Regions from separate parts of the Homo sapiens genome. Here all the other regions are reported to be linked to region 5. Evidence: microRNA targets listed by miRTarBase, many of them from high-throughput screens and not tested one by one. Region 5 holds a microRNA gene; each other region holds the end of a gene's coding sequence.
What was found. The annotated mature microRNA hsa-miR-361-3p reads UCCCCCAGGUGUGAUUCUGAUUU and lies in region 5 at 2,259-2,281, shown strand. An mRNA with a match to its seed (bases 2 to 7 or 8) in the 3' UTR can be bound and repressed. Matches are read on the target gene's strand: a 7mer-m8 pairs with bases 2 to 8, a 7mer-A1 pairs with bases 2 to 7 and ends in A, and an 8mer does both.

Region 1 (6,581 bases), not on the chromosome of region 5:
GTTTGACTCCCTTTTAGAGAAAATTGAAGGCCGGAGTCAAGGAAATGACATCTTATGTTTATCACTGCCTGATAAACCGTAAGTTTAGCAGTGTTCCTTTTGAGGTGGATGTTTCTGTCAGGGTTTTTCTGAGTTCCAGAATGACTGCACATGTCCTTTCCCTAGGCCCCCACAGCCTCAGCAGTGGAATGTGCGGTCTCCCGCCAGGAATAAAGACACTCCAGCCTGCAGCAGGAGGTCCCTCCGAAAGACCCCTCTGAAAACAGCCAACTAAACAGCGCCTCCCACCAGTGTCCAGGCAGGCAGGAGCCCTTGAGGAAGCAGTCTCGTGTCCTCCGTGTGAAGGCAGCTGGATCACTTCCCGCAGTCCTTGGGCAGCGCTTTGCTGTGGAACACGAGAGCTCCTCCTCAGGGGCCTGGCACTCACCTTCTATTCTGTATGATGTATTTGGTTAAACACTGTCAAATAATAGAGATGTGCCAGATTTAGATTTTCTTACCCTAATCTGTTTAATATTGTAACTTTATTCCATTTGAAAGTGTCAAGCCCATTCAGATAAGCTATAATCTGGTCTTTAAGGAACACAACTTTAAAACTGCAGCTTTCTTTTATATAAATCAAGCCTCTGTTAACTTGAATTCCTTATAGTACATATTTTCCCATCTGTAATGACGAAATTTTGATTCTAATATTTTTTCTATTATTTATAAGTGCAAATTTTTTAAAAAAGTGTACAGCTTTCTAAAAGTAATAAAGGTTTAGCATAAATACAGCCTTCCAGTAGTCAATAGGATTTTTCTGTTTTTAGAACAGAGCTCTTATTGGTAATCATTTTAATTTTACATAAAGCATGTTTGTTTGTTAGAGGAATGAAACCAAATCTTCCCTATTAGAAAAAAGATGATTGTCTTGAAGGGCAGTTCATCTGTGCCCAGGCAGAGGCGGTGTGCTTTCCCTAACAGACATGAACAGCATCCCTTCTTGGGAAAAAATGGCTTTGCAGCCTTCCCCAGAGCAGCACTGCCGATTTGTGCAGCCCTCTGTTAAGGGCTGCTCCCATGATGGGGGAACAGCTTGAGTCTCTTCTGTTAGCACTAGTGGGTAAACTGAATGCTATTTTTGTTCAACAATATCCAGAAAGAAATGCAGTTGGTTTGTTTTTTAATCCCAGTATTACAAAAGCAAAAGTACAAAGTGATGATGTGCGTTGGTTGGTTTGGGGGATGGGATGCCACTGAGATCTGCCCACTGCCATCCCAAGTGGGAACCGCAACACAGGTGGGCTCGGTGGCGGAGAGGCGCAGCACTGCTCTTGAGCACACAGGCTGACCTCCTGCCCAGCACTGACTTCCCTGGTGGATGGGTGATTGATAGCATTTTTAGTGTGCATGCCTAACCACTGAAATGCTAGGAAGAAGAGACAAACCCAACGTAAGAGCAAATAACAAAGAATGAAGCAATGTTTGGGTTTTTTTGAAGCTTTTATAAATGAGGTTAAACAAATGCCAAATTACGGTGTGTTAGTACAAGTCTGTAGCATCTGTGTACAGCAACATCCATCCAAAGGCAGAATCACAGCCTCGTATCGGCCTCGAGTCTTGAGTCACATTCATATCTTAAAATACACGAGTATTCCTTTTCCGTCTAGTCTCAGTTATAGGCAGCTACTTCCCAGACTCTACTTTCACTTCTCTCTACTTTTTCAGACCTGGTTCCCATGGCACTAGTGTAGAAGGTTTTAGGGTATAAGAAGAGGGGGCAATAAGGCTACCCTATCACTATGACAACCAAGAAGGAGGCTGGAGCGTGAATCCCCAACGCTGAGGGTGGGGAGCCATCCCTCTCTACCAAGGTGGCAATGATGGAGGGAACTTGCATGCTAAGCATCCAGGATGCCATGCAGCAGACACCAGGGAGCACTGAGCCACTGCTGGAGCATTTCCTGCCTCTGCCAGGCGGCCTGCGGCAAAGTGTTTCACATAACTAAAAAAAGTCAACACAGTCTCATGTATGCAATTAAAAAAAAGCTGTCAAAGTATAAAAAACCCAAGACACTGGAAGCTGAAAGACAAGGTGAGTAGTGAGAGCCATTCTCCAGGCACACAGTGGAGTGCTCCTTCTCAGCAGCTCCTTGCTTTACAGCACTTCAGTCCTGAGTCCAGCACGGCAGGGCATGTGAGGCTGAGAACACCTGCTCTTGAAGAACACAGGCTTCTGAGTGATGTTGCTAATGTCCCCCCACAAATGGGAGCAGTGTCTCCGGCGGATGAAAAATTTAAAGTCAAAATTAGAAAACTGCTTTTGATTCAGGCGTTTCACTTTCCTCCCCGCCAGGCCTTTCACCTGGCTGCTCCACCTGACGTTCTTTAAAAGGCTGGACTGGCCGCCACTCCATCATGGTTTGTTTTGAAATGCGACAGAGCCTGTGGCGTCTGGGTGCTTTCTCTGTGGCAAAGAGGAACAGTGGGATCCATTTTCTTTTAAAAATGTTATTGTACTTGACAGACTTGATTTCGCAATTGCCTTTGGCCTTAGACAATCTTAACAAATAATTAAACAAACTTAAAAAAAAAAAATAGCATTGGGGGCCCTATTTTGTGAGCCATCCATAACCAAAAAGAGGTCTGTTACAGGAGCCCAAAGCTGGGACGCTACATGGAAGACACCAGTGTCCCTGCAGTGCCCACCTGAGAGCTGTGCTGGATGAAGCAAGGGCCACGTGAGTAAAGCTCACTGGGACACAGCCACTGCCAGGGCCCAAGGATGGCAGGGCCTCCTGGCAGACAGCGAGGCAACAGTGAGCTAGAGCGGGGGCGCCTGGCGCAACCCCAGGAGCTGACTGGCATCTGTGTATGTACATCTGAGGGCTTCTGGGTGGCCTCTGGGTACAGACTGTCCTAGTCATCTCAGGAAGAGGCAGTTCAAAGCTAACCTGAGAGGTTTCTTTTGAAGAGATGCAAACTGATTTCAACATTGCTTAACTGGAATTTTTAAAGGTTTCCTAAGCAACTATGGTCTGATGTGTAGACAGTATGAGTTCCCTTGTGAAAAAGGCTAAAACTTGTGTGAGAAAAGGAACATCACAGTAAACTTCCATGAGAGGATTCCTTGGGTAAAATACTCTTAATTATTGATATTTTCCAATTTAACACTAGTAGCTTGGAACTTCTACCTTAAGTTGAACTTTTTTAAAAAAATAGGTTATTTAACATTGTATGACAATATATTTACAGTTTAAATAGAAATTTTCTTTTCAATAATCAAAATACATCCTTAGCAAAAATTTAGATGTAAAATTTTATAAAATAAACAAGACCCATAGAAAAGCATATTTCAGTACCATTTCAGACTTAGCCTAAGACGAAGGTTTTCCTTAAATCCTGACACCCTGTTGGACAAGCAGGGTTCCTCAGGCAAGATCCCTCTTCCAGCAACCAATTTACCTTCCTGATTTTGGTTGTTTTTACAAAATGCTGATCCAAAAAGCTTCTCCACAATGGACACTGCAACACCGATCAGCAGAGCCTTTAAGAAGAAACTGCGGTGGTGTCTGTGGGCCGATGAAGTAAGGCTGCTGTGTAAGAAGCCTTTTCTGGGTTCCCGCCGGGATGCGCTGCTGGTGCTGTCCAGCCACCTCGCCATCTCACATGGTGCTGTCGTGGCTGCTGAACGACCAGTGGTGAACATGCTGGCTTCACAGGGCCCAGCACGGGCGTTTACGTGAGCAAACTCTTTAAGATCACCCTAATACTCATGCGGGAATCAGGCCAGAAACAGATTAGGAACCCAACTCAGTGAACGCACCCAGTTTCGCTTCCTTGTGGTTATATTTACCGGGTCCATCTTGAGGAAAATTCTTCTATTCATGTGGCTTGTTAGAGTAAGAAGAGTAGTGGTCAACTTTGGCCAAAACGAAAAGCTTCTGAATGAGTGTCTAGCTCTGTCCGAGTGCATCAGCTCTCGCTGCCTTGACAGGAGTTTCTAGCAGAGGTATGTGCACGTGCGCTCTGTGCGCTCTCAGCCACACCGCGGGTCTCAGATCACAAACGATGACTTGTGTCTGAAGTCGCCCTGCAAAGCCAACACACAGTTAGAGCCATCAAGGGGCCTGGTGGCAAGCAGGGAAAAACACGGAGTAAGTCTAACATGGGCTAAATACAGATGGAATAATCATTCTTAAAAAGTACCATCACTAGCGCTTGCAAAGCACAAATCCCATTAGTGTGTGTGTGTGTGTGTGTGTGTGTGTGTGTGTGTGTGTTACTGTGAAGGGGCTGAGGAGCTCAGGAGCTGCACAATCACTCAGAAATCTTCCCAGGAGACCCGTGTGGTTTCCAAGGGGGAATGTTGTTTTCCCTGCTGGGTACACCTAGGTTTCCAGGTTTACTAAATGATTACCTCCTCGTCAGTGCGGATGTAGTTAACTCCATCTGGTTTCCCTGGGTTCTTGTAACTATGAGGAGAAGAGAGCAGTTTAGCAACAGGGTTGTTATATTATTGCCAGCTTGAACTTCCCTTTTTTCACATAAGGCAGGCTCACCTTTCTCCATCCTGTTTATTGTTGATGAAGTAGCCACGTCTGTATGCACAGCAGATGCCCAACGTGATCAGGGCCAGTACAGCAAGGACAACCAGAACCCCCCCAATAATTCCGCCAATGTTCAGGTCATCTGAAGAAAAGGAGGTTTGGTGGAAGCCATGATACACACTATCTGTTATTTAAAAAGGCCCTGGCCCTGCTGTGCCTCCTTCCTTCACCCCAAACCCACTTGCCCCCTGCCCCCTCAGGCCTACCCCAGCTAGAAGAGAGAACACTTACAATCCTTCTAGCCTAGAACATATAGGACACCATAACTCCTAACTTCACACGTGAAAAGTACTGAGACTTCTACAGTTGAAATGCAGTCGCACTGAAAAGTGTATTAAAGTGGGCTTGGCACTGTAGGCTTAAAAATCCTCTGGCTGAATGCCTGAGATTACTTATGGAGGAAATGGTTATGAGGACAAGATTAGGAGCCAGGATCCCAAGAAGAAAAGAATCCCTAATTTCCAGGGCCTCCCTTTGTTGCAGATTGCTGCGGGGAAGAAAGGTAGCTTCAAGCCTTAAAGAATCTGTCTCAAAAAACAAACAAGTAAAGAATCCTAGGTAAGAACTAGAGCTTTGTCTCTGCCGGCTGCCTGACCTCCGATCTATAAGCCCTCTGAGAGGAAACCCCCTGGAACCCTTTTCTCATGTCTATACACTGGGCAAAGGCACTGGGTCACTTTCATATGGGGCTCTGGCAGCCGTTCCTTCAAGCAAGCGACACATGGAAAACTATGCAGGGAATTTATCAACAAGAGCCAAGTAACTTGGAAGTTTTAAAAAAATCTCCTTTATCCTAGTGTATTGGTTCTCAAAGATGAATGTACACTTAAAAATCAACTTGCAGGCCGGGCGCGGTGGCTCACGCCTGTAATCCCAGCACTTTGGGAGGCCGAGGTGGGCAGATCACGAGGTCAGAGATTCGAGACCATCCTGGCTAAGGTGGTGAAACCCCGTCTCTACTAGAAACACAAAAAATTGGCTGAGCGTGTTGGCAGGTGCCTGTAGTCCCAGCTACTCAGGAGGCTGAGGCAGGAGAAAGGTGTGAACCCGGGAGGCGGAGCTTGCAGTGAGCCGAGATTGTGCCACTGCACTCCAGCCTGGGTGACAGAGCGAGACTCCATCTCAAAAACAAAAAGTAAACTTGCAATCGTTTTTTTTTTTTTTTTTTTGAGACAGAGTCTTGCTCCGTCACCGTCACCCAGGCTGGAGTTCTGTGGTGCAATCTCGGCTCACTGCAAGCTCCGCCTCCCGGGTTCAAGGGATCCTTCTGCCTCAGCCTCCCAAGTTACTGGGACTACAGGCGCCTGCCACCACACCAGGCTAATTTTTGTATTTTTAGTAGACACAGAGTTTTGGCATGTTGGCCAGGCTGGTCTTGAACTCCTGACCTCAGGTGATCCACCCGCCTCAGCCTCCCAGAGTGCTAGGATTATAGTGTGAGCCACCACGCCTGGCATGCAATTTTGATGTTAAAATGTCAATTCCCAAGTTTCATCACTAAAAAGTCAATAGGCTAAAGTAGGTCTGGGGCAAAACTGCAGGAGAAAACAACCCTAGAGCAGAGTTTCTCAAACGTGACACATGAGAAGAATCCTTCGGAACGCTTGTCTCACACACAGACATTTCTAGCATATGTCTGAGGTGGGCTCGAATCTGTATGTGAAACAGTGGTCCCAAATGGGTATCACCAGGCAGTTTTGGAAAATGCTGCTCTGAGGAGAGCTCCAAATAGGGAGGAGGGAAGGATTCAAAAAATGCTCCTGGCTGGGCACAGTGGCTCATGCCTGTTAATCCCAGCACCTGGGGGAGGCCGAGGCAGGAGGATTGCTTGAGGCCAGGAGTTTGAGACCAGCCTGGGCAACACAGTGAGACCCCGTATCTACAAAAAATAAAATTAGCTGAGCATGGTGGTGTGTGCCTGTTGTTCCAGCTACTCAGGAGACTGAGGTGGGAGAATGGCTTGAAGGCTGGGTTTGAGGATGCAGTGACCTG
Region 2 (6,549 bases), not on the chromosome of region 5:
CCCCGTTGAGGAGCACTGCTGGGGAGCCGCTGGCTGCCAGGAAGCTCCCGTTCACCAGGATGGAGGAGGAAGCCGGGCAAGGCGCGGGAGGGCCGGTCCCTGCCAGGAATATGGAGCCCTGGGCAGCGGCCTCGGCGGACACTGGGGCCGCCCCTCTCTCCAGGTCCTCAGGACTTCGGCTGGACTCGTCCTCAGTCGTGGGATTCCCATCAGACTCGCTGGCCGGAGAAATGGCTGTCAGCTGGGGTCCCTTAGCCTGTGGGGCCTCCCGCATAGCCAGCCAGCTGCTCCCCCACCTTTCCCTGGCCCAAGTTTCGGTGGATCATTCCAGGGGTTATGACGCCTCTCTGAGACCACTCCAAACTCCAGGGCCTTTTGCAAGCCCTGCGTGGACACCACTGCAGAGAAGCGCTGGGGAGGGAAGAGGCCCTTGCTCTCCCCCACCTCGGCCTCGGGTCCCCAGAGGCTGAGCTCCCAGGTTGCCCTAAAAGTTCCTTGGTTGGGCGGAAAGCGGGCGAGTGGCCTGGAGAGAGGGAGCAGCAGCCGCCAGCCCAGTTCCCGGTGCCCTCCCCGCGGGGCGTCAGAGAAGGGAGAGGCCGGCGCTCAGGGTGGGAGGAGAAGGGTTTGGGTTACAGGGAAACCGGAGCTGGGAAAGGTTCACGTTTCACAACAAAGGCAGAAGACGGACCACGCCGTCCGGGCCCGGAGGGAGTGTGGGGGCGGGTGGGTAAGAGTAACGGTCAGTGAAGAAAGGGGGCTGGGAGGCAGCCCCTACGCGGAGTGGAGTGGCCACAGGCCCTGTCCTTTTTCCTCAGTCCCTCTAGTGCCCCCCGCAGTGTGATTCCCCAACACCGATGGGATTTGGGAAGGAGCTCGGAATGGAGCCGCTGGAAGAGGAGACGCGTGCGGGGAGAGGGCCCGGGCGGGTGCCTGTCCCGTCCACACTTAGTCCCCGCGCCCCGCGGGCGCCTGAGATTGTGAGCTGGTCCCGGGAGATGTCCGAGGACCTCGGCGCGCCGGCCCCAGCAGTGGGCACGGGGGAAGAGGGCTGGTGGACGGGATGTCCCCGGGAGAGCTGGACTTGCGCCGCCCGAGGCCCCTCACCTCTTGCAGGGCGCGCCGCCTCCGGCCCCGGTCCGGTCGCGCTGTCGCCGGTTCTTGAACCAGTTGCTGACCTGCGTGAGCGACAGGCCGGTGAGTGTGGCCAGGCGGCGCTTCTCGTCCGGCGTGGGGTAGCGGTTGCCGCGGTAGCAGGCCTTGAGCGCTGCGCGGGAGCGCTCCTTGAAGCAGTAGACTGTCTCCTCGCCGTCCCAGATGGTCTTGGGCAGCGGGAACTTCTTGCGCAGTCGATACTTGTCCACTGCGCCAAGCGCGCGGCCGCGGGCCCGCTCGGCCTCATGGTAGCGCGCGCGCAGGTAGAGGTCCTGCAGGAAGGCGTGGTGGGCGGCGGGGAAGGGGCGGCTCTCGAGTAGCCGGTAGAGCTCGGCGTACTCGCCCCGCTGGAAGGCCACCAGGGCCCGCGCGCGCAACACCGGGTCGCTGCCACGTAGGCGCTCGGCCGGGGGCAGTGCGCCCAGGAAGCGGCTCAAGCGGCCGGCGTGGCCCGCCTGGAGCAGCGCCTCGCAGACGCACGCCACCTGCTCGGGCGAGAAGCGGAGGCCCGTGGGCGGTTCGGAAGCGGCCTCGGGGGGCGACCCGGGGACGCCCGGGGATCCCGGGCCCTCAGCTCCCGCAGCCGCTGCGCCCGCCCCGGCCCCGGCCGCCGCCGCCGCCTCACCCTCGGCCGCCTGCAAAGTCTGCAAGAGCTGGCGCGCTTCCTCCTCCTCCTCTTCGGTCGCCGCCGCCGCCGCCACCGCCTCCCCCCCAGCCGCCGGCCCCGCGCTCGGCTCCGCAGGCAAGGTAGCCATGTTTTGCAACTTTGGGAAGTTCCTCCCTCCCTCTCTTCCTCCCTCGGGCTTTCCCCAGCCTCCTCCCCCACCTGTCCCCCCTTTTCGCCCCCACTCCCCGCTCTTCTCGATCTTCTTTCTGGCCGACCCTGCGCCCCACGCCGGGAAGGCGAGATCCAGCTCTCCACTCGGGTCTCTGTCCCCTTGTGTGTGTCCGTCCCCCTCCCGTCTGTCTGTGATTCTCCCTTTGTTTTCCCTCCGCCTCTGGCCGCGCTTTCTGCCTCCCCCCAGCGTGTGCTTCTGGCTCAGGGCCTCAGTTTCCCCATCGGGACAACGCAGAAGGTAACGGGCCGTCCAGGAGGACTAAGGGCGCGAAGCCTCCGCCCCGAGACTGAGCTTCTGCACGCCTCCGTCTCCAGGGTCCTCTGCAGGCCCCCACATTCCCCATCTCGGCCTGCGCTCCGCCCCTCGGAATTCCCGGCTCCGCAGGGGGGGCGGGTCTGGCCGGGAGGAGGGGCGGGGAACGGGCTAGAAAGTTTGCAGCAACTTTTCTCGAGCTTGCGTCCCAGGAGCGGATGCGCGTGGCGTGCGCAGGCGCAGTGGAAGGAGGATGGCCGCGCGCGCTGCCAGCCCAGCCCCCTCTTCTCGACGCTCGGTGGCACAGCTGGGCCACAGCTGGGCGGGGGCGGTGCCTCCGGGTGGCCCGCTCGCCCTCCTATTGGCCGGACGCCAAAGCCCCGCCCCGTGGCTTTTCCTCCCCCAACCCTGATTCGGCCGCTTCGCATCCCGCTAGCTCCTCCCAGACCTTCGGCCGCCTCCACACGCCTCCGGATTGGCCCGCTGCGGAGCCTCCGGCCCACAACGCAAACCGCGGACACTGTGGAGTCCAGAGCTTTGGGCAGATGGAGGGCCTTTTATTCGCGAGGGTCGGGGGTGGGGGTCCTAGGTGGGGACAGACAATAAATACCGAGGAATGTCGGGGTCTCAGTGCATCCAAAACGTGGATTGGGGTTGTTGGGGGTCCTGTAGCCTGTCAGCGAGTCGGAGGACGAGGTCAATAAATATCCAAACCGCCGAAGCGGGCGGAGCCGGCTGGGGCTCCGAGAGCAGCGCAAGTGAGGAGGGGGGCGCGGGATCCCCGAAAAAGCGGGTTTGGCAAAAGCAAATTTCCCGAGTAAGCAGGCAGAGATCGCGCCAGACGCTCCCCAGAGCAGGGCGTCATGCACAAGAAAGCTTTGCACTTTGCGAACCAACGATAGGTGGGGGTGCGTGGAGGATGGAACACGGACGGCCCGGCTTGCTGCCTTCCCAGGCCTGCAGTTTGCCCATCCACGTCAGGGCCTCAGCCTGGCCGAAAGAAAGAAATGGTCTGTGATCCCCCCAGCAGCAGCAGCAGCAGCAGCAGCAGCAGCAGCAGCAGCAGCAGCAGCAGCAGCAGCAGCATTCCCGGCTACAAGGACCCTTCGAGCCCCGTTCGCCGGCCGCGGACCCGGCCCCTCCCTCCCCGGCCGCTAGGGGGCGGGCCCGGATCACAGGACTGGAGCTGGGCGGAGACCCACGCTCGGAGCGGTTGTGAACTGGCAGGCGGTGGGCGCGGCTTCTGTGCCGTGCCCCGGGCACTCAGTCTTCCAACGGGGCCCCGGAGTCGAAGACAGTTCTAGGGTTCAGGGAGCGCGGGCGGCTCCTGGGCGGCGCCAGACTGCGGTGAGTTGGCCGGCGTGGGCCACCAACCCAATGCAGCCCAGGGCGGCGGCACGAGACAGAACAACGGCGAACAGGAGCAGGGAAAGCGCCTCCGATAGGCCAGGCCTAGGGACCTGCGGGGAGAGGGCGAGGTCAACACCCGGCATGGGCCTCTGATTGGCTCCTGGGACTCGCCCCGCCTACGCCCATAGGTGGGCCCGCACTCTTCCCTGCGCCCCGCCCCCGCCCCAACAGCCTACAGCTGTTGTTAGTCCACTCGCACGCCTCGAATCCCGTCCGAACTCGTCATTGGCTGCTTCCTAGCGGCCTGTGTTGATTGGCTGCCCGAAGATCCGCCCTCCTGCCGTGGGCCCAGCCCCGCAAATGCGCAGCTAAGCGGGTGGCAAGGGGCGGGTGGAGCGCGGGGCGCGACGGCGGAGGGGGGCGTGGGCAGCCGGACGTACCCTGGCAGGGAGCAGCAGGTGGCGGCGGTGCATGGGGCCTGGCCCCACCAGCGGGCACTGGCCCACAGCCACGGCCGGGGGGCCATCTAGCTGGAGAGAGAAGGGACAGGTGACCCGATCGGAGCCCAGCCCAGCCCTCAGCGGTGGGGCGAGAGACAGCGAGGGGAATCGAGGTTGGGGAGGTTATCTAGGGAGATCCCGGAGGGAATCTGGTGAGGCCTGAACGGAGGGAGATCTGGGGCTGAATAAAGGGCTTCTGCCCTCTAAAGTCGCAAAGACGTAGGGTGAGCCCTATATCTGGACGGGGAGACCAGGAGCCAGGGAGGGGATCTGCAGAATGGGCAGCAGGTCTGAGGCAGGGGAAAGAGAGGGGTCTTACATGGGAAGGTGGATCCGTGGCCCGGGGACTGGGGACCCCCGTGACAGCTGGAAGGAGAAGAAAGAGGCATAGGGCGCGTGGAGGGGCGAAGGAGGGCGGTGGCGCGGCGTGCCCCAGCGTGGGTCCCTTCCCTCCTCCAGGTGTCTATACACGCCCCGCGGAGCAGACGGCCCACCTCCTCCCGGTCCTCCGGGGAAGGGGACACATGAGGGACTCACCTGTGGCTCCCTCTGCCTGCAGCAACTCCATCCGCTCCTGCAACTGCCGGACGTGTGCCTCTAGGTCCCGGTTCCGAGCCTCTGCCTCGCGTAGTTGACTGTGGGGAGGTAAGGACGGTGAGTCCGTCCGGGCCGGACGAGAGGGGATGCCAAGGGTTGCCACCGGCCCGCATCCCGGCCCCGGCCCCGGCCCCGATCCCGACCTGGCGAAGTTCTGGTTGTCCGTGCGGATGGCCTCCATCTCCCGGCTCAGGCTCTGCCGGGTGAGCACCTCCTCCTCCAGGGCTTCCTGGAGCTCCCGCAGCGTCACCTCGGCCTCAGCCTCTGCCGCAGGGACAGCCGCTGGAACTGCCACTTCAGCCTGTGTATGGGGACCAGGCTTAAGGCTGCCTGTGGCTCCTGGAAGACTCAGGACTTGGGCACTGGTTCCAGGCTAGGAATCCTTGTTTATCCCCTACTCCTCCGTCCCCTCAACATTTCTGGAATCCCCATAGCTCCTGCAATGATCCAAGCCCCCTCCCTTCCCTACCTCCCTCAGCCCCATCCCTGAGTCTGGTCCTCTAAATCTACACAGGGACCAGAGGGCTGGTGCTCAAACACTAACACAACCTATGTCCCTCTGCTGCTCAAAATCCCTCCAGCTCCCTAATGCCCTCACGACAAAAGGCCTTGCTGGGTTTTGTTTCCTGCTGGCCTCTCCAGCCTTCTCAGGAATGATTCAGCCAAACTACCTTTCAGGAACAAATCAGGATTCCCACCTGCCCAAGGCCTTTGCCCTGGAGGCTCTCGCCTGACCACTTGGCACCTTTCCTTCCATGGCTTGTTTCTCCTTCACCAGCGCTCAGCTCAAAGATCGACTTCTCAGATCCCCAGCAACACACACACCCTTACTTAATGCCCCACTGTAACTACAGAGACCGTCCCATGTCTGAAGTAACCTCGTCTCTCCGTGGTTTCTGTCTGCTTCTGTTCAGGAAGTCCCTAGAGGGCTCTACAGTGCACGCCACCCGGGAAGCCCTCACCTTTTCTCTCCCAATTGTCCCTGACGGACCCCCTCCCCTCCACCAACTTACTGTTTCATCCTGTGGGGACACCGAGGGCTCCAGGCTGGGCGCTTGCACGTGTGGCTCAAGCAGCTGCTCGGCCTCCAGTTCCATGGGTGTGGGGCCTGGGACCTCACTGTCCCTGGGGAGAGGAGGAGGGAGTGGGGAGGGAGACAGAATGCTGATTCTCTGGTGGAGAACCAGAACTTCTGGCCTGTGGGTAGGGGCAGCTGCTTCCAAGACCTCCTGATTTGAGGAAGGGGAGCAGCAGAGCGAAGAGAACAGAGTCCCAGGTAGGCCAATAGCCCCTCCTCTGCTTAGGAAAAGCCCTGCCCCTCTCCTGGCCTTGGGCCCCTGGGAGCTGCTCTTTCTAAACCTTCTGCAGGGACTTGGGGTCCAGACCCCCATGTTCTAGGGTCAGCTCATCTCCTCCCTTGACATGTGACCGCTGCAGACCCCTCTTCTCAGGGCCTCAGGACAGGGAGGCCGACCTGATGGGGAGACTGCTTGGCTCTGGCCACCTCCACAGATGTGGTCCTAAGACTGGGCATGGGACCCCAAGATGGCAACTTGAGGTCAGCACACCCCACTCAGCTGTGGGAAGGGGACAGCTCCTCCCTGGGGTATGAAGTGGCTGTCCCCTCCAACCCAGCAGTCCCTCCTGTGGGAACACGGCTCAGGACCTAGCTATCCTGGACATGCGCCTGGGTTCTAATAGAGGATGGGTTCAATCCTGACCCACCGTTCAGGCCCCGCAGCGGTTCAGAATCAAGCTGGAGTTCATTAATGATAAGGTATAGTATGTGTAATGTTGTCCAGTAATAAAAGCTGACTAGAAAACCAACTGTTCTCTTAGACAAAGTAGCATGAGGAAGG
Region 3 (6,624 bases), not on the chromosome of region 5:
CTCTACCGCACCCACTCACTGCAAATGTAGAGTGATCAGCTTCCAGGCTCTCGGTGTACCCCACATTGCTAAAGCCAGGGGTTCAGGGTGACTAGGAAGGACTGAAGGGCAAGGATCAGACTTGAAAAACATGTTAAATTGCTAATAGTCTGATTCTAGGGGTGTCAAAGTCCCTTTGTGATACAGTGAGTTGCTCCCAGACACAGACCAAATGCCACTACAGGACGGAAGCTGGGCAGGCAGCGTGACAGTGACCAGCTTCCCAGGCAGGAAGGTCCCACGGGGGTGCTGCACTGCCTTAAGTTTATTAAGCTGTGTCTGAGTCCACCATGCGACGTCTCTGCCCTCATGCCTGGGCTGCTAAAGGAAAAATACCAGCTAAAAGGATGGTGTTTGATGTCAACTGGGAGGGTGCTGCCCGGCACACCTGTGTTTTCCGTCACCTTCCACTCCATTCCCTTCTATGTCCATCCCAAACGCTAAACCCAGCACTTTGGGAGACTGAGGCAGGTGGACAGCTTGAGCCCAGGAGTTTCAGACCAGCCTGGGCAACAGAGCGACACCTCATCTCTACAAAAAATAAGCAAAAATTAGCCGGGCATGGTGGCATGCACCTGTAGTCCCAGCTACTTGAGGGGCTGAGGTGGGAGGGTCACCTGGGCCTGGAGGTCAAGGCTACAGTGAACTGTCACTGCACCACTGCACTCCAGCCTGAGTGACAGAGTAAGACCCTGTCTCAAAAAAACCAGAAAATTATTGGGTGAGAGCAACCTAAACTTCCTCCCTAACCACTTACAACGTACCCCTTTCTCCTTCATCTCTCCCGTCCCAATCCCTCTCATCTGGCTTCCATCTCTCCTCTCTGAATTTGCTTCCTCTCAACACATAACCCTGCACAAACCTCTCTCGTTTTAAAAGCAAAAACCCCTCCCTAAGGCCACGTCATCCCCTATCCACTTCTTGCCTCTTGCCAGCCTTGCTTTCTGAGAACTAGTCTACGTGGTGTCCGTATCTTCACCTCCCACTGGTATTTTATGGTTCTATCATACAGACACATAGTTTAGAGCCAACAGTTATGTAAGACACCTACCAAAAAGCTCCTCCACCTGCCCGTTCCCCCTCCCAAAAGGAAACTTTTAGAAATCTTTCTGCTGAGTGTCTCGGTGTGTGTTATGCATCTCCAAGATATCTCTAAATGATGGGCTCACATGGGCTTCTGCTTCCATGTTTGAGTTTCAGGCACTGTGACTGACTTCCTGCCGCAGAGGCTAAGATTCGGCTCGTTCACTCCACATGTGCACACAGCTCCTACCTGCAGAACACGCCCACCCTTATGAAGGCCATGAAAGCAGGTACACTCCACTGAGCTGGTGGTGGGGGGGGTCAATTACAGTTCTCTCCTACACAACCTGTCGCCTTCCAGAGGACTAATCATTGCCTTTTTCCCCCCAGGCTACGTCCTGCGCTCTGTCACCCAGGCTGTGGTGGTCAGTGGTGCAATCATGGCTCACAGCAGCCTCAACCTCCCAGGCTCAAGCCATCCTCCTGCCCCAGCCTCCCAAGTAGCTGGGAACAAGGCATGCGCCACCACACCTAATTTTTTATACTTTTTGTAGAGATGGGGTCTGCCTATGTGGCCCAGGTTGGTCTTGAACTCCTGGGCTCAAACAATCCTCCCACCTCAGCTTCCCAAAGTGCTGTGATCACAGGTGTGAGCCACCACGCCCGGCCAATGTGGGCCTATTTTCACCCATTGTCCTGGGCATTTAATGAGTCATTTCAATCCAGAAACCCTTACCATCAGTTTCAGGTAATTTTCATAATTAAAAAAAATGTTTCGGCCAGGTGCGGTGGCTCACGCCTGTAATCCCAGCACTTTGGGAGGCCGAGGTGGGCAGATCACGAGGTCAGAAAATCGAGACCATCCTGGCCAACACAGTGAAACCCCATCTCTACTAAAAATACAAAAAATTAGCCGGGCATGGTGGCATGTGCCTGTAGTCCCAGCTACTCAAGAGGCTGAGGCATGAGAATCGCTTGAACCCAGGAGGTGGAGGTTGCAGTGAGCCGAGATCAAGTCACTGCACTCCAGCCTGGGCAGCAGAGAGAGACTCCGTCTGAAAAAAAATTAAATTTAAAAATTCCTTAACTCTGTTGTCCATTTTCTCTTCCTGCAATTCCCATTCACAGATGCTCAACTTCTTAAATTGGTTCCCTAGTTTTTTTTTTCTTTTTTTTTTTTTTTTGAGACAGGCTCTCGCTGTGTCACCCAGGCTGGAGTGTGGTGGCACAATCTCAGCTCACTGCAACCTCCACCTCCCGGGCTCAAGCCATTCTCCAGCCTCAGCCTCCTGAGTAGCTGGGATCACAATCGTGCACCACCACACCCAGGTCATTTTTTGTAGATGGGTTTTGCCATGTTGGCCAGGCTGGTCTTGAAGTCCTGAGCTCAAAGCGATCCACCTGACTCAGCCTTCCAAAGTGCTGGGATTACAGGCATGAGCCACCACGTCCAGCCTCTAACTACTTCTCAATCTTTGTTTTTGCTCTACTTTCTAGATTCTCAACTTATTATTTTAACAGTTCTACTGGGTTTCTTTTCATATTTTTTGCTCCAAAATTTTATTTTATTTTTATTTTTTGAGACGAAGTCTTACTCTGCGTCCCAGGTTCAAGAGATCCTCCTGCCTCAGCCTCCTGAGTAGCTGGGATTACAGGCACATACCACTACACCCGGCTAATTTTTGTATTTTTAGTACAGGGTTTCACCATGTTGGCCCAGGCTGGTCTCGAAATCCTGATCTCAGATGATCCACCCGCCTCAGCCTCCCAAAGTGCTGGGATTACAGGCGTGAGCCAATGCGCCCGGCCCCAAATATTATTTTATACATATCTATCCTGCTACTCTATGGAATGCACTACCTCCTCCATTCTCTGAATGTGTTAAAGATATTTAGATGTTTTCTTCTCCCTGTACAGACAGTTTGCTCCAAGTTGATTCTTTGGTTTTGACCTCTAGCCTTCATCTTAGGGGCCGGGTCATCTTCAGATGTTTGATGATCCTGATGCCTCCAGGATCACTGCTGCCTCCTTCCTGTTGTCTTTGCCCTTAAGGGTTAAAACACACACACACATACACACACACACAACTTTTACTGCCCTTACAGTATGGCTTCAGAAAGAAACCATAAATGAACACATACTTCTTAGCCCTCAAATTTTTCACTCACATTTTAGGCCACAGTGGTCGGCTTCTCACCTAACTGAAACTGATCAGCTAATGTCAACTGACCTTGATAGTGCTGGTTAAACACCTGCCCACCCTTGTTTATTTGGTCTATTTACTGCACTGGATGCTGAAGATCCCCTTTTCCTGAACTCCCTCCTCTCCGGAGCTCAGTGGTGCTCCATCACGAGGCTCCTCTGGATCAGCTGTCGCTCTTCTTAAACCCTCTTCCTCTCTTCACCCCAAGCCTCGTGTCCGCCGGCTTTGCTTCTCGGCCCTCTGCTCTTCTCATTGTCTAAACTCTCCTGGATTAACTCGGCGAAACCCTTCAAACTGCACCACCACCTACACACCGACAACTCTATAAAGTCCCCAGGTCCAGCCAGGCCCTTTGCTGCAGGACAGATGTGTTCACCCAACAGCCTCCTAGACGGTTCCACTCAACATGCTGAAAACCAAACTGATCACTGCGTTTACACAAACCTGCTATAGCTCCCATTTTCCCTGTCTCAGTGAAGATGACCTCTACCACTGAGTGTCCCTATCATGATCCCAGTACTCCAGAAATCCGACCGATTCTACCTTCTAAACATCAAGAGCAGAAGTTTCCCAACTTAGCATGCATGAGCATCACTTGTCAGGCTTGTTATGTACGAACAGCTGGGCCTCAACCCTGGAGTTTCTGATCCTGTAGGCCTGGTGTGGGGACTGAACATTTTTATTTCTAACAAGTTCCCAGGTGATGTTGCCGCTGCTTGCTGGAACCACACTTTGAGAACCACTGATCTTCGCATCCGTTCCCTCCTCACCAGGCCCCACAGGCGCTGTGGTCCAGCCCATCTGGGGTCATTTCTTGCTGAGATTATGATCCTGTTAGCCTTGTAATTTATCTGACCTCCTTAAAACATTATTGTTATTTGAGACAGTGTCCCGCTGTCACCCAGGCTGGAGTACAGTGAGCTGTGAGGTGACCACGGCTCACAGCCTCAACCTTGGGCTCCAGCAGTCCTCCTGCCTTGGCTGGATTCAGTGCTGGGGTTACAGGTGTGAGCCACTGCTCCCGGCCAAAGTCTCATTTTTGATGCCTCAGTTCCCACCCAAGACATCACGTCTCATACTCTGCTTCCTGTGTCTTGTGAACAGTGACAGTGCTGTAGGAAAGAGTAAGCTGGAAAAAGAGAAGGTTCAGAACGACAGTGCTGACGCAGACATCACACAGCGGTATGCCAGTGCTATGGTGCCTGTTTAATTGAAATCTTGTAATAAAAGTTTAAATACATAAATTTTTTTTTTTTTTTTTATCAAAAGAACATCCCCCACTTCCCTGACCAGATACATCCAGAGGGGAGGCAAGTGGAGACTGGCTGTCTGTAGGGAGTGGAGAAATGGCAGGTCCAGCTTGGGCTGGTGTCCTCTTCCTCAGAAAGTGCTGTGGGTGAACCCAGAGTCTCAGGGAGCAGAAGCCCCCCTCGCTGGCTTTCTTCACGCGGGGTCCTCGGCAAGCTGCTCTGCACTGCGGAGAACGTGCGCCTTGTCCTCAGAAGACGAGGAAGAGCAGGGCCTCATGCCGGGGCAGTACGATGTTCTCCACAGTGCGCTCCATGGCGCGCACCTGCTCCGGGGAGGCTGTCAGGAACGCCAGGGGCCCGATGCGCTGCTCCGCACAGGAGTGGCAGAGGTAGCCCCCCTTGTTTTCCTTCCTGTTGCTCTGTGGTGATGGACAAGAGAGAGAGCTAAGGGGAACAACCAAAGAACATGGATTTTCCAGCAAAAAGCATGGAGTTATCATCACAGCTGCCCAGGGACAACGCATTTGGATTCTGATGTTTTCAGAGGGGTGCACATCCTCAGAGTAACACCTCCCACAGCACCACCAACTAGGTGGCCTCAACACCCCCAAATTCCCTGAGCTCAGAAACAGTCATTTATCCAGTCAAGATAAAGAACCAAGAAAAGCTGCGCTGGGACCCCAGGGAACAGCTCTCTCTCTAAGCGTGTATCACAACCCAGCCTCCCAGACCTGCGGCTTCAGCACAGCCAGGCAGCATCACGTGCCCTGACCTCTGACCCTGGGACAGACCACACACCTCTTGTGCCTCTCATATGAAAAGCCCCTAATAAAGGATCACACAGCTCTCTCTTATCTCCTCACCTACAACCCAGATAAGCACAGAGCTCACAAGCAAAAAATGCAAATGGCTGAATTAAGTTCCACAGACAGCAGACGTACATAGGTGATGGGCAGCTTCTTCATGGTAAGGACGGTGTCAACAGGGATGGCATTGTTGCACTGTCCCACGCAGCAGCGCACCACGCCTGTTTTTAAGACGTTGCTTGTCAGCTCTGCTTGCAAGAAGTACTCCTGAGAAAGAAAGAGCGAGAAAGAGAGTCATGGCGACACCTCCGTTAGGGTCTACTGGAAACACTGATAGCGGCGGCTCTGTGAGAACCCTTTAGATGCACTGTAAGTCCCAGAGAGAAAAACCCCGCCTAACCCGTTCTCCCTTACTTCCTCTAACTTTTCCCTGCCTCCAAAGCTATCGACAGTCCAACTGACAGTCCAATTGCTTTTTAAATATATATATATTTAACAGATAAACATGCAAAACTATTGCCTGTAATGACATTTCCAGAATATTTCTGGATTTTATTTTATGCTAAGGTATCCCCAGCTCAATCTTCAGAAAACTATTGTGTATTCACATTATAAGCCAGGCAGGCAACACAGAGGACATGAAGAAAACTTGCCCCAAACATCCCTGCGTATTTCCACCGTCCCGTGCTGCTGGCTGTGCTAGTGAGCAAATGACAGCCTCGCTAAGCCTGTGTCTTTATCCATAAATGCAGATGGCACGGTGCCTGCTTCAGGTGGCTGCTGAGGAGAAGAAACCCTTCAATGCATGCAAAGCACTCACGCCTGGCACGCAGGGAGCACCCAGAGGAAGCACTAGTGACCTCCCAGGCTGGAAACACCACAAGGACAGGGCACTGTCAGCTTCGCTGCTGCCCTGTGGGGCTCCACATCACAGACTGATATGCTAGCAGGACCGCACACATCTGCTGCCCAGGAAAGGACGGTTTCGTATTTTCTGGATTATGACCAGCTATTGATCTACTTATTCTACAATCTGTAACCTACGTTTTGATTTATTTGGTCTTTTCTCTTAGACGGCCTGCCTACCAGCTATGAAAAAGAACAGAAAACCACCAGGCAAACACTCCAGTTATGGCCAACAAGTACTAACAGCTGACGAGGTGAAATCCTGTCTGAAGTCACAGATTTTGCTGAAGTCCCTTGGACTGTCATCTCAATTTCCTTCCCGAGAGACAGCCAAGACCATGAACCTGGCGAGGTCCCTCCAACCCACGGTGAAATAGCTTCTCGTTTACACGTGTCC
Region 4 (6,624 bases), not on the chromosome of region 5:
ACCCTCAGGGCTGCCCCCATGGCAGGCCCTCAGCCTGAGCCTTCACATACATCATGACGAGGATGGCAGCTCTTCCCAGCTACTGAGCACTTGCTTCCCAAGTGCCAGGTTCTGTGCTAAACCCCATGCTCACATAAAATCCTACAGTAGGCATAACCATCCTATTTGACATTTAAGGTACAGAAAGTTTAACTAACATAGATAACTCCCCCCAAACTTGAGAATTTATGCATTCCCTTTAAACAGAACACACTTTTAGAATATCCACAAGCTTCCTAAGGGTCTAAAGATCCCACATTCACACTGACTTGGGCAGTGACAGAGCCCAGAGCAAACAGGGCCAGGCCAGCCCAAATCCAGTGACCTCCTCTTCACCTTCTTAAAAGAGACAGGAGAATCACTTGAACCCGGGAGGTGGAGGTTGTGGTGAGCCAAGATCGCGCCATTGTACTCCAGCCTGGGCAACAAGAGCAAGATTCTGCCTCAAAAAAAAAAAAAAAAAAGTCTGCCATGTGTATGGCACGTCTGAGCAATGGACTCTCCATGAGTCTGTAGGAGAGCTGGGTCTTACTAACCTAGCCAAGTGGTATGCAGCACCAACCATGAGCTACCGGGGCAAAGGGAGACATGACTCTAGTAGCCTTGCACCTCTACTGGGCTTACTTAGGGTAGGGGTCTTCGGGTCTAACCCATGCCTGGCCGGCCTGGTGGGTATGGTGTTCTCCATTGTAGAAGCCAAGCAGCCAGTCAACCTCTGCAAACCCAGCCCGTGCATGAATGAGGGCAGCTGCGTCCTGCAGAATGGGAGCTACCGCTGCAAGTGTCGGGATGGCTGGGAGGGCCCCCACTGCGAGAACCGTGAGTGGAGCTCTTGCTCTGTATGTGTGAGCCAGGGATGGTATTGCGAGTCCTGCCAAGTCCCACAAACTCAGCTGAAGGCAGGTTCTAAAACATTCGTTCAGTGGAAGAAATTATTCAGTCGTTTACCCACGAAACATTTAGTGAGTACCTCCTGCATCCCAGGCATTGTTCTCAGTGCAGGAACATAGCAGTAAACAAATGAATAAAACCTCTGCCCTCATGGAGCTTCCATTCTAATGGGAAGACAGACAATAAGCAAATAATACAACATGTGGTGTGGTAGACGGTGCTAAGCACCCCGGAGAAAGTCATGACAACTAGGAGGGAGGCCACAGTTAGGAGCACAGTAGATCCAGGGTACAGGGATGTAGACGGAGGCAGGGATGGGTAAATGCGGTGGTGGGAGCTGCTGGAAGCTCTTTTTGGGGTGCTATTTGCTCAGTAAAATGGGAGGAACAGCTAAGTGAGGACGAGGAGGAGGTGCTAGAGGTTTGAGAGAAAAGAAGTCATTGTCAAGGGTAACAGATTAGGACCTAGAGAGTGATCGTTGGGAGGCATTAGAGGTCCAACTATGGCTCCTGTTCATGAGTTTGAAGTTAGAACAGCCAGAAATCAGAAGACAAGTCCAGTCGGAGCCTTGGTTTTTTGGCCACGGGCAGAGGTTGGCTTCCTAAGGCCAGAGAGAAGCTCTGGAGGATAATCACATGGGGTCTCTAATCTGGCATCTTCTGCTGGGGGCGAGGTGGGTTGTAGAGTAAGAGCAGGACCTGAAGGGGTCCTCAGAGGCTGCTGGAGGGCTGAGAAGGGGATGCAGACACTCCTGTCCTCAGACTTCACTTCCTTCCCCAGGATTCTTGAGACGCCCCTGAGGCACATGGCTCCCGTGCAGGAGGGCAGCAGCCGTACCCCTCCCAGCAACTACAGAGAAGGCCTGGGCACTGAAATGGTGCCTACCTTCTGGAATGTCTGTGCCCCAGGTCCTTAGAATGTCTGCTTCCCGCCGTGGCCAGGACCACTATTCTCACTGAGGGAGGAGGATGTCCCAACTGCAGCCATGCTGCTTAGAGACAAGAAAGCAGCTGATGTCACCCACAAACGATGTTGTTGAAAAGTTTTGATGTGTAAGTAAATACCCACTTTCTGTACCTGCTGTGCCTTGTTGAGGCTATGTCATCTGCCACCTTTCCCTTGAGGATAAACAAGGGGTCCTGAAGACTTAAATTTAGCGGCCTGACGTTCCTTTGCACACAATCAATGCTCGCCAGAATGTTGTTGACACAGTAATGCCCAGCAGAGGCCTTTACTAGAGCATCCTTTGGACGGCGAAGGCCACGGCCTTTCAAGATGGAAAGCAGCAGCTTTTCCACTTCCCCAGAGACATTCTGGATGCATTTGCATTGAGTCTGAAAGGGGGCTTGAGGGACGTTTGTGACTTCTGGCGACTGCCTTTTGTGTGTGGAAGAGACTTGGAAAGGTCTCAGACTGAAATGTGACCAATTAACCAGCTTGTTTGATGATGGGGGAGGGGCTGAGTGTGCAATGGGCCCAGGTCTGGAGGGGCCACGTAAAATCGTTCTGAGTCGTGAGCAGTGTCCACCTGAAGGGTCTTCCTTTCAAAAGAGGCTGCGGCCAGAGACTGTGGCTCATGCCTGTAATCCCAGCACTTTGGAGGCTGAGGCAGGTGGATCACCCGAGGTCAGGAGTTTGAGACCAGCCTGGCCAACGTGGTGAAAGTTTGTCTTTACTAAAAATACAAAAGGTAGCCGGGGGTGGTGGTGGATGCCTATAATCCCAGCTACTCGGGAGGCTGAGACAGGAGAATGGCTTGAACCTGGGAGGCGGAAGTTACAGTGAGCCGAGATCTCACCACTGCACTCCAGCCTGGGCAACAAGAGTAAAAATCTGTCTCAAAAAGAAAAAAATGTACTTAGGAGGGGTTAATTGTGGCGTGTTTATGGAATTCTTTCCTTATTCTCCTTTTAGTGGGGCAAAGAGAAGTAAGATTCTTAAACTCAAAAATATAGGATAAAGAAACTTACAGAGATTTTGCTTTTTAAAGCATTGATCTTACGCTGTCTAGGTTTTAATTTTGTTTTGCTTTGCTTTTCTACACAGTTTTTAAAGAAATATTTCAAGAAATGTTGGTTATTTATTAAACAGGGATATTTGTACCTATGTGGCAAAGAGGCATATTTGGAATATTCTCTGGCAAACTAGATACTTACTTCCCTATCGCTGCAGTATTTAGGAATTACTTCTTCTCCTTGGTTGTGTTGTTTAGAGTTGGATTTTCTGTAGAAATCTTTCTAGAGCTCTGATGTGACTCCAGACACTTTATCGTTTTTCTTTTTTTTGAGACGGAGTTTTGCTCTTGTTGCCCAGGCTAGAGTGCAGTGGTACAATCTTGGCTCACTGCAACCTTTGCCTCCCAGGTTGAAGTGATTCTCATGCCTCAGCCTCTTGAGTAGCTGGGATTAGAGGCAGGTGCCACCATGCCTAGCTAATTTTTGTATTTTTAGTTAGAGACAGGGTTTCACCATGTTGGCCAGGCTAGTCTCGAACTTCTGACCTCAGGTGATCCCCCTGCCTTGGCCTCCCAAAGTTCTGGGATTACAGGGGTGAACCACTGTGCCTGGCCCATTTTTCTTTATAAATATTGTAACATAATGTTTTATAGACAAACATTCAAGGGTACTTTGGCTTTAAGAACTTCAGGATTTCTGGTGCTAGAAAAGCGCTTGAAGCAGTATCACCAAGATTTTAGATATTAAAAAGTCTGGTGTACCAGACATTGAGTCATAATCATCTATATTCAAGGGATACTTTCATTGATAACTTTGTTATTATGCTGCCCTTCACAGAAGACAACGTCCGGGGCAGGATCACATGCTCCCTAGCAGATGCTGATCAGTGATGTCATAGAAATTACATGAATGCATTGTCTTTAAATAGCAGTTTAACCATGTTATAATGTAGGCTTTTTGTCTTGTTCCGGGCTGGTATTTGGGTGCCCTGATTGAATTACTTGGATTTAAACAGCAAACTGTGGGCTCTCGACTTACATAGTAAGGGCCTTTACTGTTTCTTTGTAGGAAATGGGTTTCTCGCCTTTGAAACATTTTTTCCCCTTTTGTAGTGACAGTGCCACTAAATAGTTCAGCTTTTGTCAGTCCCCCAGGAAAGTGCTATCCTATGGCCTAACTAGCCAAGCCTTTTTTCTTTCATTTAAAAGAAATTAGCTTTAATTTTTACCTTTAATTACTTATTCAAATAAGACAGAAATATATTTTCCTTGCAATAATTAAAACATTGCATATAGGCCATAAATTTCCTTATTTTCTCTGAACGATCCTGATTCCAGTCATCTTGTTGAATACCCTAGTTCTAATAATTGACTCTTGCTTTTCTAGAGAAATATTTCCAAATGATGCTAGTTTTGTCTCTTCCTTTCAAAGTTGTATACCACTTCTTTTTCTTGTCATTTTGCATTGCCTGGGACCTCCAGAATAATGTTTCATGAAGTAGCATGTATCCATATCTGGTTCTTGACTTTTTCATCATAATAATTGTTTTCTATGGGTTACTTATCAGTTTAAGAATGCTTAATTCCTAGATGAACTAAGAGTGTTTATTACATGTTGAGATTTATGGTATGCTTTTTCTTCCTCAAGATAATGCATTTTTTGTATTATCTGTTAATGTGATAGGTTATCCATTTGTGTATTTTCAATCATTGAACAACCCTTGATTTTTTTGGATAAACTCTATTTGGTCATTATGCATCATTCTATAAACCCTGCTGAATTTTTCATTTGCCAACATCTTATTTCAGATTCTTTTAATCTGTGTCCAACAATGAGATTTGTTTTCTTTTGCAATTTGTTTTGAATTTTTGGTATCAGAGCTATACTAACCTTATAATGGAAAATACATATTTCTCAAACTTTTACACTGATATATTCATAGTATTTTTTTATAATTTGAAAAATCTTGTCAGTATCTGTATTAAGGCCTCCATTTCAGTTCTGCTATTTCATATTGCCTTAGGTTGTCTATTTGTCTCTTTAATGAACCCGATTTTGATTTTGTCATTTTTAAAATAAACACATTTATGCTATAAACTTCCTTAATTACTACTTAGGCAACCTTCCCAGTATTGGTATGTTTCTTTTTTCCCAAGAATTCTTTAGGAGTATATTTAACTTCTGGGAGGAGTACTGATTTTTCATTCACTTATATATGATCAATTTCTGCAGATGTTTCCTGTGTCTTTGGTATGTTGTTAACTGTACAACTAAAATTTGCTTTCAGCCTTATCTATGCTCTTTGATTCAAGGAGGCTGAGTTTCCTGCTAGGATCCCATCTTGTAGTTCAGTGTGTAAATAACCAAAACATTTCCTCCCTTGAGAACCCCCCAGGCCCTGCCCCAAGTCATTTCATGAACTGAGGAAAACTTCAAATACAATGAACATTTTATTTTAAAAAACCTAACTAACTCACCACTTGGTAAAAGGTCACCAAATGTTTATGAGAGAGGAAATAAGAATAAAAAAGACATTTAGTTCTCAGGAACAAGTGTTAGAGAACTGATACACAACCCTCCAGAAATGAGGCAGAGATAATAGATGAAATGTTTCAACCTGTGTTAAAAAAAAAAAAAAAAAAATGCCATCAGAGGAAAAGACAGGGGCAGCACAAGGAACAGCACTGCCAATTTTAAGAGGGCGATCACCCTAACCAAAAATCACCACTTTGTTCTTGGAAGGAGAATGAACATTAAACAGAACTTAAAATCAGAGACTATTTATATTAAATAACTCTTCCCTTAAAAATGGCCTGACCACAGCAATGAATCTGTAAACACAGAGTAATATTTTTCCTACAGTAAAGAGTCACTTTAATCTCAAAAGATACTTTTCACTGTTCTAAATGACAGGATTTTAAGCATTTTTTCCTATATATAATACAGCATCACTTAAAATTTTATTTAAAGACAGTTGATTCAGGCCTGCCTTGGACTGGAAAGAAGTCTTTAACTTAGTGGGATTAGTGCTTCAGCTTGGTCCCAAATATTTTCCCCATTATTGTTTCTCAAAACTCATGTCATAGATGGTTTTACAGATGATGGTTTTACAGATGATGTCAATGCTGTTTAAAATCACTGAAGACTGAGTTGGGCCTGGTAATATTGGAGAGAACTGAAGGCAAGGATGGTTTAATCCCCAACTGCTAAGTATTGGATAAGAGATGATGGCCAGGAGTTTAGGTCTTCTCACTCACCAAAGACACGTGACCCATAAGACAGGGCCCTGCTTCCTTGATTCATCTTCCACCAAAGTCTAAACAGGAGGTTTTCACTATTTAAAAATCTTAGTAAAGCAATTGATGACAACTTCAAAAAAGAAAGAAACACAGAACATCCCTAAATACAACGTCTTGTTTACATCCAATAGACTTAGGTCTCCAAAGAAGCCTCCTTTTTGTTGTATTATTTCCTTTGGCTCTGAAAAGGGACAGAGCCTCCTCTTAGCTGAAGCTCTCCATTCACAGTACCTCAGTCTTTGCTTTTTCTTCTAAACAGACTCACCCTTTCGCATAGTTTTTGCTTTAACAAAGCAGGATTGTCACCAAGGTCCACATTGACATGAGAGTCTTTAGATGAAGCTTGTTTTCTAACTTGCTCCTTTCTTCTCCCATTCCTAGGGTACCATTCAAATACCAGCACCCACCCCCCACCAAAAAGATAGTTAGTTATCCACTGT
Region 5 (4,000 bases):
TCCTTATTTAAAAAGCTTCAGTGCCTTTATATAATCTCAGAATAAAGTGTAAGACCTTTTTACATGACATATGACGGGTGAGACTCTGTAATCTGGCCTCTGTCTCCCTGTCTAGGCTCATCTCTCTTCCCTACTTGCTTTTCATTTTATTGTCACATAATACTGATCTGTTCATGGGTCTCTGTACCTGCTGTTCTCTTACTTGCCTTTGTAACCCCGCAAATTCTGCCCTTCTACCTGAGATAACTGTATCCTTATTTGCTTGCTTAACTGTATGTTATCCTTTAAAAGCAACAAATGTGTCACTTCCTCCAAAGAGCATTCCCTGATACTCCACCCCTCCACCATAAGATGAGTTAGGTACCTCTTCTAGTACTGTGTAATTCCCTATCCTTATCTTTTATCACTGGACTTTGCTATTGTCTTAAAATTGTCTCTGCCTGAATCTTCAAAAATTGTCTCTGTCTGAATCTTGTCCTTTAGGGCAAAACATTTTTATTCTTACCTCTTAGAACAGTGCTTGGCACATGGTTGTTATGCTATACATTTATGTTGAACAAATGAACTACCAATTTGCTAGCAGGTCATTATCATATTAGACATTGTAAGAGTCTAAGGCAGTATCAGTGGAGACGGAGAGAAGAGGCTAGTTTCAGGAAGTATTTATAAAGCGGAATCAAAATGTTATAGCAGACTAGATATAAAAAGAGATTTGAGGTAGGAAAACTGCTGATTATGCCATTGCCTGACATAGGGATTCCAAGGGAGTGGGAGCAGGTGAGGAGCCATGATAAACTCAGTTTGCAGCATGCTAGTTTTAAAAAATGCTTGGCTAATAATACTATATTATTTCCTTGAGATTTGGTAAGAGCAGGTATTAAGTTCCTCATGACACCCACAGATGGTAATGATGGGTGGCAATAGATGTGTTAATTCATTTGTGGTAATCATTACACAGTGTATATCAAGTCATTACATTATACACATTGACTATATACAATTTTTGTTTTTCAATTAAGTATTTATTAAAAGGGAGCTTGGAGTCTATCCAGAAAGTAGTAGATAATAGACAATTACAAATATGGATACAGAACTTAACAGAAGTCAGAGCCTAAAACTATAGATTTGAAGTTATTTGCCTGCTAATGGTGTTTAGAACTAGTAGAGTGTTTTTCACCCAAGAAAAATGAGTGGGAAGCATTTGAAATGGTTTTATGGATGAGGTAGCATTTGAACTAATGTGTTTGAGAAAGCTCAGAAGGGCATAGTGACTAGGGAAAATTATTTTGTTTTCTTCAGTGATTGAGAATCTTCTAATTTCCTTAGTACATTTTCCTTTAAATTATTCCATATGTGATTTCTGCTTTCTTTATCATAAAATTAGTTGGTATATTCATTCTGAAGATCACAGAGATTGAATACTTGTTTTAGTGTTATTTTTCCTCTTCTGGGCCAAATTCCAGATTTTGAGTTTTCATCTTACTATTTTCTTCCTCATCATCATTTTGCTATCTACACACTTATATCGTTGAACCAATAACTGAATAACTTGTGATTTGTTGATTTAGAAAGCTTAGCTCTAGAAATGTTCTGTCTGGCTTGAGTGTTTTGTATGGTCAGCTTGGTCATTGTGTCCCTGTAACTGGAGACACCTGTTACGTTCCTCCTCAAGTTACTATTTATGAGGCTCAGCAAGGCCCTCAACTAAATCTTACGTGGTTTAATCTTTCCTGCCTTCCTCAGGTTTATGTGGGAGGGGTATTTTCATGACTCTGGCAGCACTGTTTATTTTGCTGCTTTCTGTTAATTAAATGTCATCTAATTTTTTATATGAATCTTTATAATACAAAGACTAAATTTAGATCTAAAATCAATGTTTTTTTATTCATTGTTTTCCCAATTATGCTGAATATATGACAGTAAGTTAAATGTCTGAGAGGAAAACATATCTTATCACTTGCTTAAACATGTCTTGATTTGAGCAGTTTTGCTTAAGCCTAGAGTCTTAGTACTTCAGCGTGATATTATCAGGTGAGTCATGTTATTATCATCTACCAGACTGAGACTTGGGCATATGTGACCATCACCTCAATTTCTGCAGAAACAAATATTTTATCTGTACCAATAGCCCTTGATTTTTCTCCACCTAGCACAACATAAGAGATACAACAGTAGCAGTGGCACGCTTGACAGTGATTTTTTTCCTGGGATTTGGGAGCTTATCAGAATCTCCAGGGGTACTTTATAATTTCAAAAAGTCCCCCAGGTGTGATTCTGATTTGCTTCCTTTTCCTCCTCCTGCTCTGAGAATCACCGTTTCTTTAGAAGCATCAGCATAAATAGGCACATGTATTAGTATCTTCTCCTGGTATGGTTGAGCTCCCTAACTCCCAAACCCCCATACTTGCCTTTTGAGTGATCTCCATTAGTTCTTTCTAATATCATAACTTTTGAAACAAATGTCTGTCACCAAAGGTATGGCTACCACCAAAACAACCTCGTTCATGTTTAGAAGCCTACAAAGCTTGAGGGCCAGGTTTAATAATACAGTTTAAATGGGAACCCTTTTTAAAGACTTACACTCAGGTCTGAGATTTATATTAACACTGACCCCCTCCCCCAGTTTTATTTTAACATTTTATGATGAACATTTTCAAACTTATACTGACATGGAAGGAATTTCAAGAGAACACCTGTATATCCACCTCCTGGATTCTATAACATTTTAATAAACTTGTTCAGTCACACGTCTACCCAAATATTAACCCCTCTATCCATGTATCGAGTCATCTTTTTAATGCATTTGACTGTGAATTGCAGATGTCAGTAAAATTTCCCCTAAATACTTCCAGCTTGCATATTATTACCTGGAGCTCAATATTTGTTAAGTGTTTTTCTTTTGATGTAAATTTATATACAGTGAAGGGTCCAAATCTTAAGTGCTTCTTAACTGAGTTTTAACAAATGATAAATCTGTATAACCTAAGCCCCTATCAAGATATAGAAATTTAACAACCCCTTTTTTCTGCCCAGTTATTTCCTCTTGACTTTACATAGTCTCTGAATTAAAGGTAAGAAAAAGATTTGTCAGTGCTTACAGGACAAATAGAGATTGATGTTTAATGACAGCAGATTTCTCTTCTCAATTGCCTGAAGCACTTTGTGTTTCAAATGGTATATGAGTGTTTTAAAATAGAAGACTGAGTGAATTACTTATATTTTCAGTTTTTAAAACATTATTTTGGAGAATATCAGATGTAAATACTTCAGATCTATTTTCTTAAGTATTTTATAAGGCAAGAGCTCTAGTTCAATGAAATATGAGGAGGTATGTATAGAAACAGAAGTGTAGAAGAGAAAGAAGGTGGAGATGAGATGGAAAAAAATCATGTAAATATTAACGTAATATTACAAATGTTATATTAAAAGGTGGTTAATTGGTTAAAATATCTATTATGTACATGTAACATCACTAGACATCATAGACTATCCTTACAACAGTGGGATGCCATTTATTAAAAAATACCAGCATATTATAATCTGCCTTTAGGAAATACAAATTAAATTCCTCTCACTATTGGTCTTGAGTGTTAGTCATTTTATTTTTAATGCCTTTATTCCTGGAAAATATCACTTATATGGCTTATTTTTAAAGTGAATGAACAGATTTTAACTTATACCAGTATATTTTACAGTATGCTTTTGGAATTAATTTGCTTGCATCTTATGAGGGGCAACACATAAGTTCATTTCTAATAAAATAATTCTGTTCCCCAAAGGAGAAGCTGTGACACAAATAAATTGATATTTCCATAATCAAAAGATATAGCAAACACACAGTCATTTGCATATAGTTCCTGAAATATTGCATACTGGCTTTGTCAATGCTGGTAAGTCCATTTCAAGGATGTTGCCCTTAGTCCATTAGTTTGGATAATGAGCCCTATAAAGTACATTTATAACTTGTGGCACTGCAAGGAGATGGATTCTAATTTTCATC

Region 1: the mRNA of NCAPD3 is a reported target of hsa-miR-361-3p. Seed matches in the 3' UTR shown: 7mer-A1 at 1,064-1,070 and 7mer-A1 at 1,219-1,225.
Region 2: miRTarBase lists DMPK as a target of hsa-miR-361-3p. Seed matches in the 3' UTR shown: 7mer-m8 at 3,264-3,270.
Region 3: miRTarBase lists FBH1 as a target of hsa-miR-361-3p. Seed matches in the 3' UTR shown: 7mer-A1 at 4,539-4,545.
Region 4: miRTarBase lists VWA2 as a target of hsa-miR-361-3p. Seed matches in the 3' UTR shown: 7mer-A1 at 2,379-2,385.

What each region holds. Positions count from the first base shown.
Region 1 is chr11:134,146,637-134,153,217 of GRCh38, reverse strand. It overlaps NCAPD3 (non-SMC condensin II complex subunit D3), which reads left to right. Exons shown (of 35, transcript NM_015261.3): 34 at 18-78; 35 at 166-3,105. The coding sequence ends at 274. JAM3 (junctional adhesion molecule 3) reads right to left here. Exons shown (of 9, transcript NM_032801.5): 7 at 4,542-4,671; 8 at 4,400-4,454; 9 at 1,217-4,072. The coding sequence ends at 4,037. SNORD153 (small nucleolar RNA, C/D box 153) reads left to right here and starts at 1,855; the gene lies at 1,855-1,930.
Region 2 is chr19:45,766,938-45,773,486 of GRCh38, forward strand. DMPK (DM1 protein kinase) reads right to left here. Exons shown (of 15, transcript NM_004409.5): 10 at 5,704-5,815; 11 at 4,834-4,991; 12 at 4,631-4,728; 13 at 4,413-4,459; 14 at 4,034-4,123; 15 at 2,780-3,703. The coding sequence ends at 3,551. SIX5 (SIX homeobox 5) reads right to left here and starts at 2,315. Exons shown (of 3, transcript NM_175875.5): 1 at 1,105-2,315; 2 at 1-218. The coding sequence starts at 1,907. It overlaps DM1-AS (DM1 locus antisense RNA), which reads left to right and starts at 859. Exons shown (of 2, transcript NR_147193.1): 1 at 859-1,194; 2 at 4,553-4,946. RefSeq lists enhancers at 34-669, 734-1,293, 2,785-2,864, 3,025-3,134, 3,575-3,654 and 1 more and silencers at 1,035-1,164, 1,615-1,834, 2,195-2,734, 2,586-2,770, 3,295-3,454 and 1 more.
Region 3 is chr10:5,935,420-5,942,043 of GRCh38, reverse strand. FBH1 (F-box DNA helicase 1) reads right to left here. Exons shown (of 21, transcript NM_178150.3): 20 at 5,457-5,588; 21 at 4,451-4,934. The coding sequence ends at 4,764. LOC105376384 (a long non-coding RNA gene) reads left to right here. Exons shown (of 2, transcript NR_188180.1): 2 at 4,535-4,993. Among named protein-coding and RNA genes, the nearest start is that of IL15RA, 39 kb to the left of the region's middle.
Region 4 is chr10:114,289,508-114,296,131 of GRCh38, forward strand. It overlaps VWA2 (von Willebrand factor A domain containing 2), which reads left to right. Exons shown (of 14, transcript NM_001272046.2): 13 at 733-858; 14 at 1,711-4,982. The coding sequence ends at 1,730. It overlaps AFAP1L2 (actin filament associated protein 1 like 2), which reads right to left. Exons shown (of 19, transcript NM_001001936.3): 19 at 5,317-6,561. The coding sequence ends at 6,535. Among named protein-coding and RNA genes, the nearest start is that of VWA2, 54 kb to the left of the region's middle.
Region 5 is chrX:85,901,922-85,905,921 of GRCh38, reverse strand. It overlaps MIR361 (microRNA 361), which reads left to right and starts at 2,215; the gene lies at 2,215-2,286. All of the region lies in intron 9 of CHM (CHM Rab escort protein), which reads left to right.